4 linked regions of the Homo sapiens genome follow. Changing the gene in region 3 together with the main gene of any one other region gives a genetic interaction. Each region holds a gene or a part of one and is shown on either strand. Other genes may lie near its edges. The genes, in order: MTOR, MAP3K1, KDM5C and KDM6A.

What was found.
Region 1: changes in KDM5C (region 3) and MTOR together harm fitness more than expected from each alone (negative genetic interaction), as found in Homo sapiens cells (one large-scale study listed by BioGRID).
Region 2: changes in KDM5C (region 3) and MAP3K1 together harm fitness more than expected from each alone (negative genetic interaction), as found in Homo sapiens cells (one large-scale study listed by BioGRID).
Region 4: changes in KDM5C (region 3) and KDM6A together harm fitness more than expected from each alone (negative genetic interaction), as found in Homo sapiens cells (one large-scale study listed by BioGRID).

The regions. Positions count from the first base shown.
Region 1 is NC_000001.11:11,255,967-11,259,581, forward strand, and holds part of MTOR (serine/threonine-protein kinase mTOR), read right to left. Parts: intron 3,485-3,615; exon of another isoform or gene 3,458-3,484; 5' UTR 3,444-3,457; coding exon 3,282-3,443; intron 2,628-3,281; coding exon 2,519-2,627; intron 1,200-2,518; coding exon 967-1,199; intron 227-966; coding exon 26-226; intron 1-25. UniProt on the Homo sapiens protein: Serine/threonine protein kinase which is a central regulator of cellular metabolism, growth and survival in response to hormones, growth factors, nutrients, energy and stress signals.
Region 2 is NC_000005.10:56,888,463-56,892,077, reverse strand, and holds part of MAP3K1 (mitogen-activated protein kinase kinase kinase 1), read right to left. Parts: intron 1-3,615. UniProt on the Homo sapiens protein: Component of a protein kinase signal transduction cascade. Activates the ERK and JNK kinase pathways by phosphorylation of MAP2K1 and MAP2K4. May phosphorylate the MAPK8/JNK1 kinase.
Region 3 is NC_000023.11:53,208,100-53,211,714, forward strand, and holds part of KDM5C (lysine-specific demethylase 5C), read right to left. Parts: intron 3,557-3,615; coding exon 3,398-3,556; intron 2,759-3,397; coding exon 2,577-2,758; intron 2,478-2,576; coding exon 2,315-2,477; intron 1-2,314. UniProt on the Homo sapiens protein: Histone demethylase that specifically demethylates 'Lys-4' of histone H3, thereby playing a central role in histone code. Does not demethylate histone H3 'Lys-9', H3 'Lys-27', H3 'Lys-36', H3 'Lys-79' or H4 'Lys-20'.
Region 4 is NC_000023.11:45,058,121-45,061,735, forward strand, and holds part of KDM6A (lysine-specific demethylase 6A), read left to right. Parts: intron 1-885; coding exon 886-984; intron 985-1,126; coding exon 1,127-1,346; intron 1,347-1,901; coding exon 1,902-2,036; intron 2,037-2,488; coding exon 2,489-2,644; intron 2,645-3,203; coding exon 3,204-3,299; intron 3,300-3,615. UniProt on the Homo sapiens protein: Histone demethylase that specifically demethylates 'Lys-27' of histone H3, thereby playing a central role in histone code. Demethylates trimethylated and dimethylated but not monomethylated H3 'Lys-27'.

The sequences.
Region 1 (3,615 bases), on a different chromosome or scaffold from region 3:
GGTGGGAATGGAGCCATCTCCTTACCCTGTACCACTGAGGCTTCTGCATCTCCTTCGGCTCACGCTGGGTTGTGAGAATCAGACAGGCACGAAGGGCGGCTACAGCTCCCTCACGGATGGCCTGTTTGGGGTCCCACACGGCCACAAAAATGTTGTCAAAGAAGGGTTGCACTTGCTGGAAGAAGAAGGTAGGGACGCTGATGGCCAGCTCACGGAGAACCAGGACCTGGAGAAAAAAGCAAACCGAGAACTCTCATTGGTACCAGAGTTTTGTTCTCTCAGGAGTACAGTCTCTTGTCATCTTAGAGCCATACACACCAGGAACAGAGAAGGCTTGCTCACTCTTCTAGCTAGGAAATTCTGAGGACAGAGGAAGGAAAGCAAAATTGATTAAACATCTCAGTGCTCATTATCCTAGGTTGTTTACAAACACAGAATGCTTGTAATGTTTGAACATAAGTTCTGGAAGTGCAGATGTGTTTTATGTTTTCTTTACCACTATACTAACAGCCTAGAACTCTACCTGGAATACAGTAGGTATGTAGTAAATATTTACTGAATGGATAATCCTGTTTAATGTTTAATCCTGTTGTTATTTTTATTTGACAGAGGAAGAAACTGAAGGTCAGAAGCTGCCCCAGGTTACAGAGTTAGGTAGGAAGTTGCAAAGCCAAGACTTGAGCCAGGGTCCAAGTGTGTGTCCTTTTCCTGGTACCGTGCCCCCTCCTCACAGTACTGCCTCCTCCGAAGGGCAGCAGACTGGAAAGCACGCAGCTGATGCTTCTGATCCCCACCACACCATGCTAGATTCCCTCTTAAGGACGGACTCTACCCCATCTCACAGCCTGGAATCCTAGCTCTTCTAACCAGCTTTTTTAAGGAATGAGCCTCAGAAGGAAGCAAAAGACCCCCCCATGACACCATCGTTCCCCAAGCCTGGCTGTGCTCCTCCCTGTAGACACTCACAGCTGCATGTCTCCGGCCCTCATTGCGGTCAGCACCCAGCCATTCCAGGGCTCGCTTCACCTCAAATTCCACGTACTCAGCGGTAAAAGTGTCCCCTGCCATGGCAAGACGGCCAATGGCCTTGGATGCCATTTCCATGACAACTGGGTCATTGGAGGGGAGGAGGTTCCGAAGATAGTTGGCAAATCTGCCAATTCGGGTGGCATTCCCACCTTCCACTCCTATGAGGCTAGCTGCAAAAGAGAGGAAGGCAAAAGGTGATGATGGGGCGTATGCTGGCCAGGAAAGTACGCAGACTTCAACTAAAAGCTGGTGAGTGCCGGCCAGGCACGGTGGCTCAAGTCTGTAATCCTAGCACTTTGGGAGGCTGAGGCGGGCGGATTGCCTGAGCTCAGGAGTTTGAGACCAGCCTGGGCAACATGGTGAAACCCCGTCTCTACTAAGATACAAAAAAAAAAAAAAAAAAAAGAAAACAAAAAAATTAGCCAGGCGTGGTGGCACACGCCTGTAATCCCAGCTACTTGGGAGGCTGAGGCAGGAGAATTGCTTGGACCTGGGAGGCAGAGGTTGCAGTAAGCCGAGACTGCACCATTGCACTCCAGCCTGGGCGACAGAGTGAGACTCTGTCTCAGAGAAAAAAAAAAAAAAAAAAAAAAAAATCTGGCGAGTGAACCCTCCATTCTACTTTGAGTACATTTCTAGATGGCAAGGACAGATACAATTTTCATTTTAACCCAGATATTTAATACTTGTGCCAGAAATATTTACATAAAGCAAAATAATCTCATGCTAGTATAATTTTCTCCCCTACCCCCCAAAAAGGGAAAACAACTGGGACTGGATAATAATTCACAGGACTGATGACCAGTCCTTAGAAGTTAAAAATGACCTGCCTGGCCAGTTGTGGTGGCTCACACCTGTAATCCCAGCACTCTGGGAGGCTGAGGTGGGCAGATCACTTGAGGTCAGGAGTTCGAGACCAGCCTGGCCAACATGGTGAAACCCTGTCTCTACTGAAAATACAAACATTAGCTGGGCATGGTGGCAGGTGCCTGTAATCCCAGCTACTCGGGAGGCTGAGGCACGAGAATCGCTTGAACCCAGGAGGCGGAGGTTGCAGCAAGCCAAGATTGCACCACTGAACTCCAGCCCCGGCAAGAGTGAGACTCCATCTCAAAAAAAAAAAAAAGACCTGCCTTTTATTAACTATACCGATTCCACTTTTCCATTCGTGAGCCCCACTATGCGAAACCCTGCTCTACTGAGGAAGCAGAGCCCACAAAAGGCAATATGAAGGAGTGGAAAGAAAGCTGGCTTCTAGTCTCAGCTCTGGTAAACTGTCTGAAAAGTCACTCGATGGTTCCGAGACTCCACTTCCACATCTAAAAATACGTTTTTCCTGTGGCCCAGGGCTGCTGCTAGAATTAAAAGCCACGGGCTTCTTAAATTTCATTAAGCAAATATGAACTAGTATCCAGTAAGTGGCAGACACAGGGTGCAGTGGGCACAAAGGTGAGTGTGTTGTTTTTGTGACCAGAGACTCTGTCCTTACCTATGGCCAAGATGCCACCTTTCCTCTCATTGGCATCTGAGCTGGAAACCAATTCAAAAATGTGATGGTTCAGTTGGTCATAGAAGCGAGTAGACTCCTCTTGACTCATCTGCAAAAGAAGATATAATCAGAACAATTTCTAATAATTCTCTAACTGTGGTGGTGGGAGTGGGCTGGCATCTAAAGATTAGATCCTGAGAGGCAGGAGGTATAGTTCAAACCAAAGAAGACAAGTTACTGCCCATTTCTATAGGATTACACTGTAGAGTACCTGAACTTGCAATCATCTGATTATTTAACAAATATTTATTAGGTATCTACTCTGTGGCAGAAAATGTCCTGTCCTAGGTTCTTTCTAGTACCAGGGATAAAAGGAGAAACAAGATACTGTCTCTGACCTCAAGTCTGGTCTCTATTTAGAAAGCCCCTAGCTCTCAACTCTCCAAACCCATCCCAATCACTGTTATCAGACAGAAAGCATTTGAGGGTGTGGTATGTGGTAAGGAAAAAATAAAAAGTTAAAAGAAACAGCTAAGTCTATTCTGGCCCCTAAAATGTGACCACAAACAAGAAAAATGCTACAAAAATGTGCAACTGCTGCAAAAGAACCTGCATGTTTTATGGATGTGACAGGTTGGGTGCCTTTATAAAATAATCTCTGTTTTCCAAATCCTCACTTAGCTGTACAAAAAAAAATGTAAACCAGTGATGGTACATTTAGCCCACACATCCCACAATGACTGGCCCCAGATCCCAGAAGCACCTCTCGGAGTTCCATGGTGACATAGTGCTGGAGCTCCTTGGCGGCTTTGGCCCTGGTTTCCTCATTCCGGCTCTTTAGGCCACTGGCAAACTGCTGCAGGACGCTCACATTGCTAGATGTGGTGGCAGCGGTGGTGGCGGCGGCAGGTCCGGTTCCAAGCATCTTGCCCTGAGGTTCTTTAGAGAGAAGTTTCCTTTAATATTCTGGATAAGAAAGTATGATGATAAATTTACTTATGGCCCTGGTCACCCAACACAGATCTCCCCCTAGCCCTTGTCAGGCAGGGGATTCTAAAAAGGTTGAGAGATCTGATTGAGGAACATTTAGAAAGCCT
Region 2 (3,615 bases), on a different chromosome or scaffold from region 3:
ATGACTTTCTTCACAGAATTGGAAAAAACTACTTAAGTTCATATGGAACCAAAAAAGAGCCCACATTGCCAAGTCAATCCTAAGCCAAAAGAACAAAGCTGGAGGCATCATGCTACCTGACTTCAAACTATACTACAAGGCTACAGTAACCAAAACAGCATGGTACTGGTGCCAAAACAGAGATATAGACCAATGGAACAGAATAGGGCCCTCAGAAATAATCCCACACATCTACAACCATCTGATCTTTGACAAACCTGACAAAAACAAGAAATGGGGAAATGATTCCCTATTTAAGAAATGGTTCTGGGAAAACTGGCTAGCCATATGTAGAAAGCTGAAACTGGATCCCTTCCTTACACCTTATAAAAAAATTCAAGATGGATTAAAGACTTAAATGTTAGACCTAAAACCATAAAAACCCTAGAAGAAAACCTAGGCAATACCATTCAGGACATAGGCATGGGCAAGGACTTCATGTCTAAAACACCAAAAGCAATGGCAACAAAAGCCAAAATTGACAAATGGGATCTAATTAAACTAAAGCGCTTCTGCAGAGCAAAAGAAACTACCATCAGAGTGAACAGGCAACCTACAGAATGGGAGAAAATTTTTGCAATCTACTCATCTGACAAAGGGCTAATATCAAGTCTGAATACTTTAAACTCACCTATCCACTCCTAATCACAAGAAAACTCTCTTTTCCCTACCCCAGTAATTTCATAAATGCTTTGGGTTAAAAAATGCAAAGTAATATAAAGAAAAATCCTCTAAGGTCTGTGATCCTGTATCATGATATACTCAGCTGATATATACACATCTTACACACCACAAAAAGGAAAAATACAAAACAAAAAAAGTCCCTCTTCCTTCTTTTCCCCAAATGTAACTTACTGATGATTTGTGTGTGTGTGTGTGGGGGGGGGGGGTGTGTGTGTGTCTGTGTGTGTTTTGTGGAGGAAAAAAGGCCAATATATTCACAGACTTAAGATTTTCTAAAATGTCTACAAAAGAGAAAACTTAATTTAGAGACAGGGTCTCGCTCTCACTGTCACCCAGGCTGAAGTGCAGTGATATGAACATGGCTCACTGCAGCTTTGACCTCCTGGGCTCAAGCGATCCTCCCACCTCAACCTCCTGAGTACCCTGGAGCACAGGTGCGTCTCACTATGCCCAGCTAATTTTTTTTTTTTTTTGGTAGAGATGGGGTCTCGCTATGCCCAGGCTGCTCTCCAACTCCTGGGTTCAAGTTTTGTTCTTGCCTCAGCCTCCCAAAGTGCTGGGATTACAGGCATGAGCCACTGTGCTTGGCCAGGATCACTTTATATACCTTGCTCTTTTCACTTATTAATGTATCTTGTAGCACTTTGTAAATCAACACCAACAGCTTCATACTCGTTTAATTTCTGTATAGTGTGGATAATTTAATTACTTTCTTGAGTAGAGTGAATAATCCTGAACTTGGCACTTGGTACTTCTAGAGGTAATCTTGAGTAAATTCCTAACAATGGGCATAGCTGAGTCAAAGAATAAGTGCATTAAAAATTCTGGCAGATATTGCCAAATCACTCTCTAAAAAAACGTGCTATGGCAATTTATACTACCATAAACAGGGTATGGAAGTGTTTGAGAAAGCTTTGGGGTGCTTCCAAAAACCTCAAAGTATTTACTCCAAATTAAGGAAACTGAAAATGTTACAGTACAATTCTCTTTAAACTCTACCTAGGAAGGAGAATGCAATGAAATCTGTTAAAATATGAACTGTGCCAATTTGAAAATTATTTACAATTGTTTCCAGGGTCTCATCAAAACTCTTAAAATAACATCAAACTTTCAAATTGATCCTAGCCATGAGTATTTATTGAGCAACTTCTGTATAAGACTCTGGGAAGAAGAAAATGAATCAGACATGAATGGACCTCAAGGAGAATTAGTTTGAAAGAGGCAGCAAGATAGGAACATAACTAGCAAACAAGAAACAAAGTGTCAGAAACAAGTATGTACTAAAATGCTATGAGAATCTGGAATGAGTAAAAAGGGGGTGCCCAAGCAGGAGAAGCACAAAATGGGGGCCTTAAAGAGAATAAGAATTTGAACCACGTAGAGAACGGACATGGGACGTCTGAAAGAATAGAGGAAATGAGGTGATAATACAAAACAGGTATTGTCAGAGAGGTGACTGAGGAGGTTATATAATAAGTGTGGGGAGCACTGGAGGAGGTTATGGCAGGTGGAGCTGACTGTGTGGGCTGAGTGCTTGACTAAGGCCTAGGTATAATTTTGTTTATCTTCATAGTAATCCCACGAAGTACATGCTTCATGGGGTTCTTGCACCAATTTTACATGTGAGAAAATGGAGGGTAGACACAAAAAATAATTTTCCTATGATTACATGGCCATTAAGGGGTAGAGCCAGGGTTTAAAACTAGGTCAGTGTGACTCCAAAGCCCATGATTTCAACCATCACATCTACTGAAAAGCTAAGAATATCAACCATTACTTATTCTATGGTGGAAAAGGAGAGAATGGATTTGTGAGTTATAAAAAAGTAGGAAAGGCAGACAGGACTGAACTGACTTGGGTGTGAATTTTTAAAATATACAAAATAGTAAATTAGGCCAGGAGTGGTGGCTCACGCCTGTAATCCCAGTACTTTGGGAGGCTGAGGTGGGCTTGAGGTCAGGAGTTCGAGACCAGCCTGGCCAATATGGTGAAACTCCATCTCTACTAAAAATACAAAAATTAGCTGGGCATGGTGGCGCGTGCCTGTAGTCTCAGCTACCTGGGAGGCTGAGGCAGGAGAACTGCCTGAACCTGGGAAGCGGAGGCTATAGTGAGCTGAGATCGTGCCACTGCACTCCAGCCTGGGCACTGCAGCGAGACTCTGTCTCAAAAACAAAAACAAAAAACAAACGAACAAAAGAAAATGGTAAATTAGATTTTAAGATTTTTGAATTATGTAAAATGCATGAATTTCACGTTTTTAAAGTGATGGATGGATATATATACACACATACATATACATATAAACACACTACATATTTCTTCTAGAAGCAGTGTTTTAGTATTTGCTAATTCAATATTTGTAGCAACTTAACAGAGCATAACTACCTCAAATAACAAGAAGTGACTATGTATGTCACTAACATTGACAACACCATTGACAATATCAACTCCTGGAAATACACACATACACAGATGCTCTTCAACTTACGCTGAGGTTATGTCGTGATAAACCCCTTTTAAGTTGATGATATTTTTTTAAGTTGAAAATGCAGTTAATACACCTAACCTGCCAAACATTATAGCTTAGTCTGGCCTACCTTGAATGTGCTTATAATACCTACATTAGCCTACTGTTCCGCAAAATCATCTGACAACACAGTCCACTATAGAGTATTGGTTGTTCACTCTCGTGATTGTGTGGCTGACTGGGAGCTGTGACTCGCTGCCACTGCCTAGCATCACCAGTGTATCATAGCACATATTGCTAGCTCAGACAAAAATCAAAATTCAAAGTATGGTTTTTACCAAATTTGTATTGCTTTTGCACCATCTTAAAGTAAAAAACTTGTATATCAAATCCTCTCTGAATAAATATACAGACTATTTATT
Region 3 (3,615 bases):
TCCAGCTGGCTAAACTGCAGTCTCCCAGCATGAGAACATAAAAATCACAGATACTTGAATTAAGGGGATACTGCCAAGTCCAAAGGGCCTGGAGATGCTGTGAACTACCTATAGGAAGGGCAGGGCAGACAGAGGGCTGGGTGGTAAAGTAGCAGCTGGCCAGAGAAGATGATGAGCCACGAGCAGGAGAAATGCTGTGGAGGTGTAAGCAAAAAGCACGTATTTTGGATTCTGTGATAAAGTTTTTTAAAAAGCGGTAAGGACTAAACAGCTCCATGACCTTCTGCATATGTATATATACATATATATACACATACATATATATATATATATATATATATATACACACACACATATATATATATATGCCTCTTAGCTACCCAAATCCTTCAGAGAATCCTTTTTTTTTTTTTTTTTTTTTTGAAATGGAGTCTCTCCACCTGTTGCCCAGGCTGGAATGCAATGGCACGATCTCGGCTCACTGCAACCTCCGCCTCCTGGGTTCAAGTGATTCTCCCGCCTCAGCCTCCCCAGTAGCTGGGACTACAGGCACGTGCCACCACGCCCGGCTAATTCTGTATTTTTATTAGAGACGAGGTTTCACCATGTTGGCCAGGCTGGTCTCGAACTCCTGACCTCAGGTGATCCGGCCGCCTCAGCCTCCCAAAGTGCTGGGATTACAGGCATGAGCCACCACACCCGGCTCTTTTTTTTTTTTTTTTTTTTTTTTTTTTGAGACAGGGTCTCACTATGTTGCCCAGGCTGGAGTGCAGTGGTACAATCTCGGCTCACTGCAACCTCTGCCTCCCGGGTTCAAGCGATTCTCCTGCCTCCTGATCCTGAGTAGCTGGGATTACAGGCGTGCGCCACCATACCTGGCTAATTTTTGTATTTTTAGTAGAGACTGGGGTTTCACCGTGTCGGCCAAGCTGGTTTTGAACTCCTGACCTCAAGTGATCTGACTGCCTTGGCCTCCCAAAGTGCTGGGATTACAGGCGTGAGCCACCGTGCCTGGCCAAGAGAATCCTCTTTTACAGTTTTCCATGGCATTATAGACAAGGACTGATGCTGTGCTATGGGTCAGGAAGAGAGAAGTCTAAGGAAAGTCAGACCCCATGTCTACTTGTAAAGCAGCAGAACTCAAGCCCTTGATCATCATCCTTAAATGGGGTGAGGTAGAGAGAGAAAAGGATAACTCCCTGAGTGGAGGAAGATTGCCTGAACTGTTATAGGACACCTCCTTCTGTCCAATTCCCTAGATATCCCAAGTCCTTGGTTAAATATCACTAAATTTTATAATAAAAAAATATTACTCATGGGGCATATAGTATACCAAAACAAGGAGAAGGCAAAAAGAAATGCAGGTGAGAACCACTGACCTAGTCCAAAGCCCTACTGTACAGATATCTAGGAATATCTGAAGGAGACATTAATTCAGTATTTATTGACTATCTCATACATTAGAGTAAGTGGTAATGTGTCCAAGGCCAAAGAGCGTGGAAGGGTGTAGGGAAGAGTAGCAGCCCCGGATAATACTTAAAGCAGAGATAGAGGATCTACTAATTCCTGTTCTTACAGGACTAGTGATCAGGCTGTTTTAAGATCCACACCAGAAAACTGGCTGATGCTAATCAATGCTAGAAATTCCCAGGAATATAAAGTCTCTCACAGGTAAGCCATGTTGTATACCCAGCAAAATGTTTTAAAGGGTAAGAAAGAAGTACACAGAGGATAGACCAGAACTCTGGGTTCAACTTTTGACCTGTTAAATAAAAAGACCTATCCACTGCTCTGAGAAGGGTAAGAGTATACAAAGTATGGCAGAGGCTGCTAGTTGTACCTCGATATTCATTCTTGTCTTCTGTCATAACAACATGACCTCCAGTTTTAAGTGGTACTTGACCATCCAAAATAAGAATTACATTTCCCAGTTTTCCCTGCAGCTAGATGTGGTCATATGACCAAGTTTTTACTAACAGAAGGTGAATGGAAATGATGTGTGCCTTTAAAAGATTTGTCTAGCCCTGCACTTCCCCACTTCCCTCTTCCACTGGCTGGAATGTAGATGTGATAATAAGCCACCCCTTAGCTGTTACCGTCAAACACATGGCCCAGAGGGCATACCATCATACGGTGCATCTAATCACTATTATTTTGGGTCTCTACTAGACTAGTCAAACCCGTAGCCCAATTAAGAACAGCAATGAAGAAAGGCCAGGGGCAGAATACAGATGACAACCACCGCCACCACCACCATCACAAAGGACATCACTAAATCACTCCTGCCGCTTGTCCCTGTTGCCTGGGTACTCACTGGCACACCATGGGACATGAGGGTGTTGGGATTCATGAGGGTGACAAGTTGGTGCAGGAGGTCAGGCTGGCTATCAAATAGTTCAGGTGTCAGCTTCTTCATCACTTCTTCCAAATGTTCTGCTGCAAGTGAGGGCACCCCATACCAGGTCTTCGGCTCACCCCTGCACAAGTGGAAAAGGGACACACACAGTAAATCACACCTTGGTCATGCAGGGAGCCCACACTGACTTGATTCCCTGGCTCCCCAGGGTCCCACTCACCAGTGGAGGTAGTTAATGGAGTAACTCCAGTGATCCTCAATATGCCAGCAAAAGGCTGAGAAGACCATGCCCACGTAGAGCCAGGGCACCTTCATGCCAGAGATATCTGCATTGATGTGGCACAGTACAGACTGTTCCAACACCGGCATCACATTTAGGTTCCAACCACTGGTAGCATACTCCTGCCAGGTCAGGTATTTGTAAAAAGGGCATGAGGGTTATGCTAAGGAACTGAGATCTTAAGTCATTTTCTTTAGCCTAGGGAACCTTAATTTTGAGGTCAGAGACTTTTTTGAAACATCTTAAGAAACATATAGGTTTTCTCCCTACCTCTCCACCAAAAAGCATACACACAAAATTTCAATTGTATTCACTTCAATTTCTACGAAGTTTACCGATATATCCACCTACCAAAATACCTGCAAGTTAAAAAAATCCTGCTCTGGATCAAAATGTACCCTTTCTTGGAAGCACAACTAGGCCCTCATTTTCTCCTGTGCATACAAACCCCACTCCCTGAACACTACTTATGGATGAGCCAGGATCTCATATACCTTCTCATTTAATTTTTATAACAAATTTGCAAAGTAGATATTATCCCCATTTTAAAGATAAGGAAATGGGCTCACAGAGGCGAAAGAACCCATCTCATGTTTGTACATGCCAGGTACCAGACTGTTTTCTTTCATCTCATCTAAATCTCATGGCTACATAAGACAGGCATAATTATCCTCATCTTACAGAGATACTGAGTTTTTCAGATACTAAATGATTTGCCTAAGCTCACACAGCTGACACGTAACCATGAATCATCCACTCACCTCCTCTTCGGGGGTTAGGTGCCGTTTACTGTCACTGACAGGGAAACCGCTGCCAAATTCTTTGGAATGGATGTCAGCTCCATACTCAACAGTCACATCTTCCTCAATGCTATTTACCAGCCTCCAGAACTCCTTCTCCACAAGTTCTGTGGGCACCATCTGGGGGAAGACAGGTAGCAGATGACTATGGCCCATCACACCCTGGACCCACTGATCCA
Region 4 (3,615 bases), 8.2 Mb from region 3:
TATGATGGTCTCTTCTTATCCTAAATTCTCAGGCCAATTATTGTCTATACTGGCCATTTGATATGACATCATGACATTTTTAATGTATCTTCAGTCCTCAACTAAATTGTAAGCTTCATGAAAATAGGGACTGGGTTTTTGTTTTTTTTCTTTTTCCTTTAGTGCCAAGAATAAGAAGATAATTTCAGTATTTATAATTTCAACTGTTATCTGTGTATCCATCATGTCCATCGTGTATATTCACATTAAGAAAATTACAGTCCTTGAATCGTTAATCTTACCTTGCTAACTTTACTAGTCATAAAATATTATACTTTATATTATTTTTACTTTTTACTTTATACTATTTTTGATACTTAGTTTGAGATTAACTATGTCTTACATGTGCATTTTTTTTATGAATTAAAGAATTATTGCCCTCAGTGTTGTTACTTGGGAAAGGAAAATTGAAATCTGATACAGCAAATCTTACCAACGTATATAGTGTTTTTGTTTTTAACTCTGTATTTTGACCATATAGGAAACTAGAGGTCAAGCTGTATAAGAAGAGTGGAAGAGTGCCGTGTGTGTGTGTGTGCACATGTGCATGCAGCTCTCAGTATTATAATATTGAAGTGATATGTCCCCTAATCATTTTAATAGAGTTCATTAATGCAGCATGCTTTTTAGCACCTATAAGACAGACTATAATATGGTTTGTTGGAGGGCAAATTATAATATTCATTATAGTTAACAAGTATATACATACATACACATAAATATATTAACTTATTAGGGTTTTAAAAAAATTTGCTGTGATATATAGTCCATCCTTTCAGCCGATTAATTTGTTTCAGTATTAATGGAATTCTCTTGATTTTTTTTTTTTTTCCCTTCCCTTCTCAGGTGCTATTCAAGTATTGGGAAAGTTCAGGATGCCTTTATATCTTACAGGCAGTCTATTGATAAATCAGAAGCAAGTGCAGATACATGGTGTTCAATAGGGTAAGCCTTTGTATAAAAATAGTAGTAATTTAATTGATATACAAAGATGGTTGCATCACATATAGTACTTCATAGTTTAAATCATTATAAAACCAAGCAGTTCTTCTGAGTTGACTTATTTTTTCTTAATTTCTCTTTCCAGTGTGCTATATCAGCAGCAAAATCAGCCCATGGATGCTTTACAGGCCTATATTTGTGCTGTACAATTGGACCATGGCCATGCTGCAGCCTGGATGGACCTAGGCACTCTCTATGAATCCTGCAACCAGCCTCAGGATGCCATTAAATGCTACTTAAATGCAACTAGAAGCAAAAGTTGTAGTAATACCTCTGCACTTGCAGCACGAATTAAGTATTTACAGGTAAAATTTTTAAATGGCAGTTTTTTAAAGCCACATATTTCCCCAGAACACTCAGGCAGAAGGAGGGTGGCTGGAAAGTTTGTCTAGTTGTGTTTTGATGTCTATAATCTGTTTCCATATTTTGTAAACATACCATAGCTTGTAATATTATTTTACTTTTCATTTTAAGTAAGATATGCAGTATTTTTAAAGATGCTCTTTTGCACATTTACTCTGTTGATGCATATTAATTTACATAATTTTTTTCTATGTACTGTCTACATTTTTAAGTTGTCATAGCATTTTATAGAAAACACAAACAGTCTTTCACTCTTGCTTGGAGTTTCTTGAGAAGACAGCTATGAGAACTCTGAAAACAGAGCTCAGCTTTGTTTTGATTCTCACAAAGGTTTATATTCCGGTTACCCTGTTTATACTTAGTGTCTTCTAAAGCCCCAAATTTAGAATCTATTTTCTTTTAAAAACAATTAGCTATAGCATTTAGGAAGATTTAGTGGACTTGCTCTTACTCAAGTAGGCTTGTGTTAAATTTGCTTTTTACATAATTTTTCCTAGGCTCAGTTGTGTAACCTTCCACAAGGTAGTCTACAGAATAAAACTAAATTACTTCCTAGTATTGAGGAGGCGTGGAGCCTACCAATTCCCGCAGAGCTTACCTCCAGGCAGGGTGCCATGAACACAGCACAGCAGGTGAGAAGTTGGGTTATGTTCTGCAGGTGCCCAGCTTTAAGGGTTCTTTTCAATTCTCTAGTGGTCAAGCTTAATTTACTAAGCACAGGAGGCTTTTAGTAATGAAAAGCCTTTTGATTTAATTGCAAAGGGAATCTAGATCAAAATAAAATTCCCTCTAATATGGGAAGAGATTTTGGGGTACCAACTTAGAACCTTTGTGCATTTTCATGATTTTGAAGGAGATTTCTTAAAATAATGCTACAGTGGTTTGTTTAATTTTTAAGGCAAGTTTTTCAAAGGAAGGTACACATTATTCCATTGATGAATCATTTAATTTTGATTTTCAATCATTGCAATCAGCGATGTCCACATAGCTTTGAAAAGTATGCAGCTTGTAAAGTTTTATAATTTGAAGGAATGAATTAAGAATATATAGAACCCTATTTTTGTCTTCCTTCTGTGATTCTTAGGCATGTAAACCTCATCATCCAAATACTGAACCTGTATTAGGCCTCAGTCAAACACCAATTTCACAGCAATCCTTGCCACTACACATGATTCCTTCTAGCCAAGTAGATGACCTGTCCAGTCCTGCCAAGAGGAAAAGAACATCTAGTCCAACAAAGGTATATGTTTTAGAGAAATAGAAAATCCCAGTCAAAAAAGAAGTTTCAGCTGCCCTGAAATTGTGCAGTTTGAACATTTCCTGTCCTTTATTTTAAATTTGTGGACATCAAAGAGTGAAAGGTTTGAGTTTTTCCATCCCAAACCCTTAGTATCATATTAAATATAGAAAGTAGGGATAAATTTGCATTCATCAAATCATTTTATTCATCTCCCTGCCGTTAAGATCCCAGCACACTTTTCATCATCACTTTTTACTGACATTGAAATAAATTTAATGTTGGATCTAGTGGACAGTGTGGTGTTTAGGCTAGCCGTTTGGGCCATAGTTTGAGGGTGGGCCTTTTTGGGTGGCTTATTAAATAGTCAGTAATTTTTAAATGTATGATTTCTAAGTTTAATATGCATGTAAAATTATTTTTTAAAGAATTTAATGTTATAACATCTTTTTAACATGTAAATATTCCAATTCATAGTCATTTGGCCTCCTCTAACCATTATTATTAACTGTGGATTTAACCAAATATTCTTTAATTTTTTTTTTAAATCGATTTTCCTCAGAATACTTCTGACAATTGGAGTGGTGGACATGCTGTGTCACATCCTCCAGTACAGCAACAAGCTCATTCATGGTGTTTGACACCACAGAAATTACAGGTATGTAAGATGTTTTTGACAAATTGTTTATTAAAAAGGAGTAGAGGTAGCAAACAAGTATTAATTTTTTTTTTTTTTTTTTTTTTTTTTGAGATAGAGTCTTGCTCTGTCACCCAGGCTGGAGTATAGTGGCACGCTCTTGGCTCACTGCAACCTCCGCGTCCTGTGTTAAAGTTATTCTTGTGCCTCAGCCTCCAGAGTAGCTGGGATTACAGGCACGCACCATCACACCCCGCTAATTTTTATATTTTTGGTAGAGACTGGGTTTCGCCATGTTGGCCAGACTGGTCTTGCACTCCTGACCTCAAGTGATCCA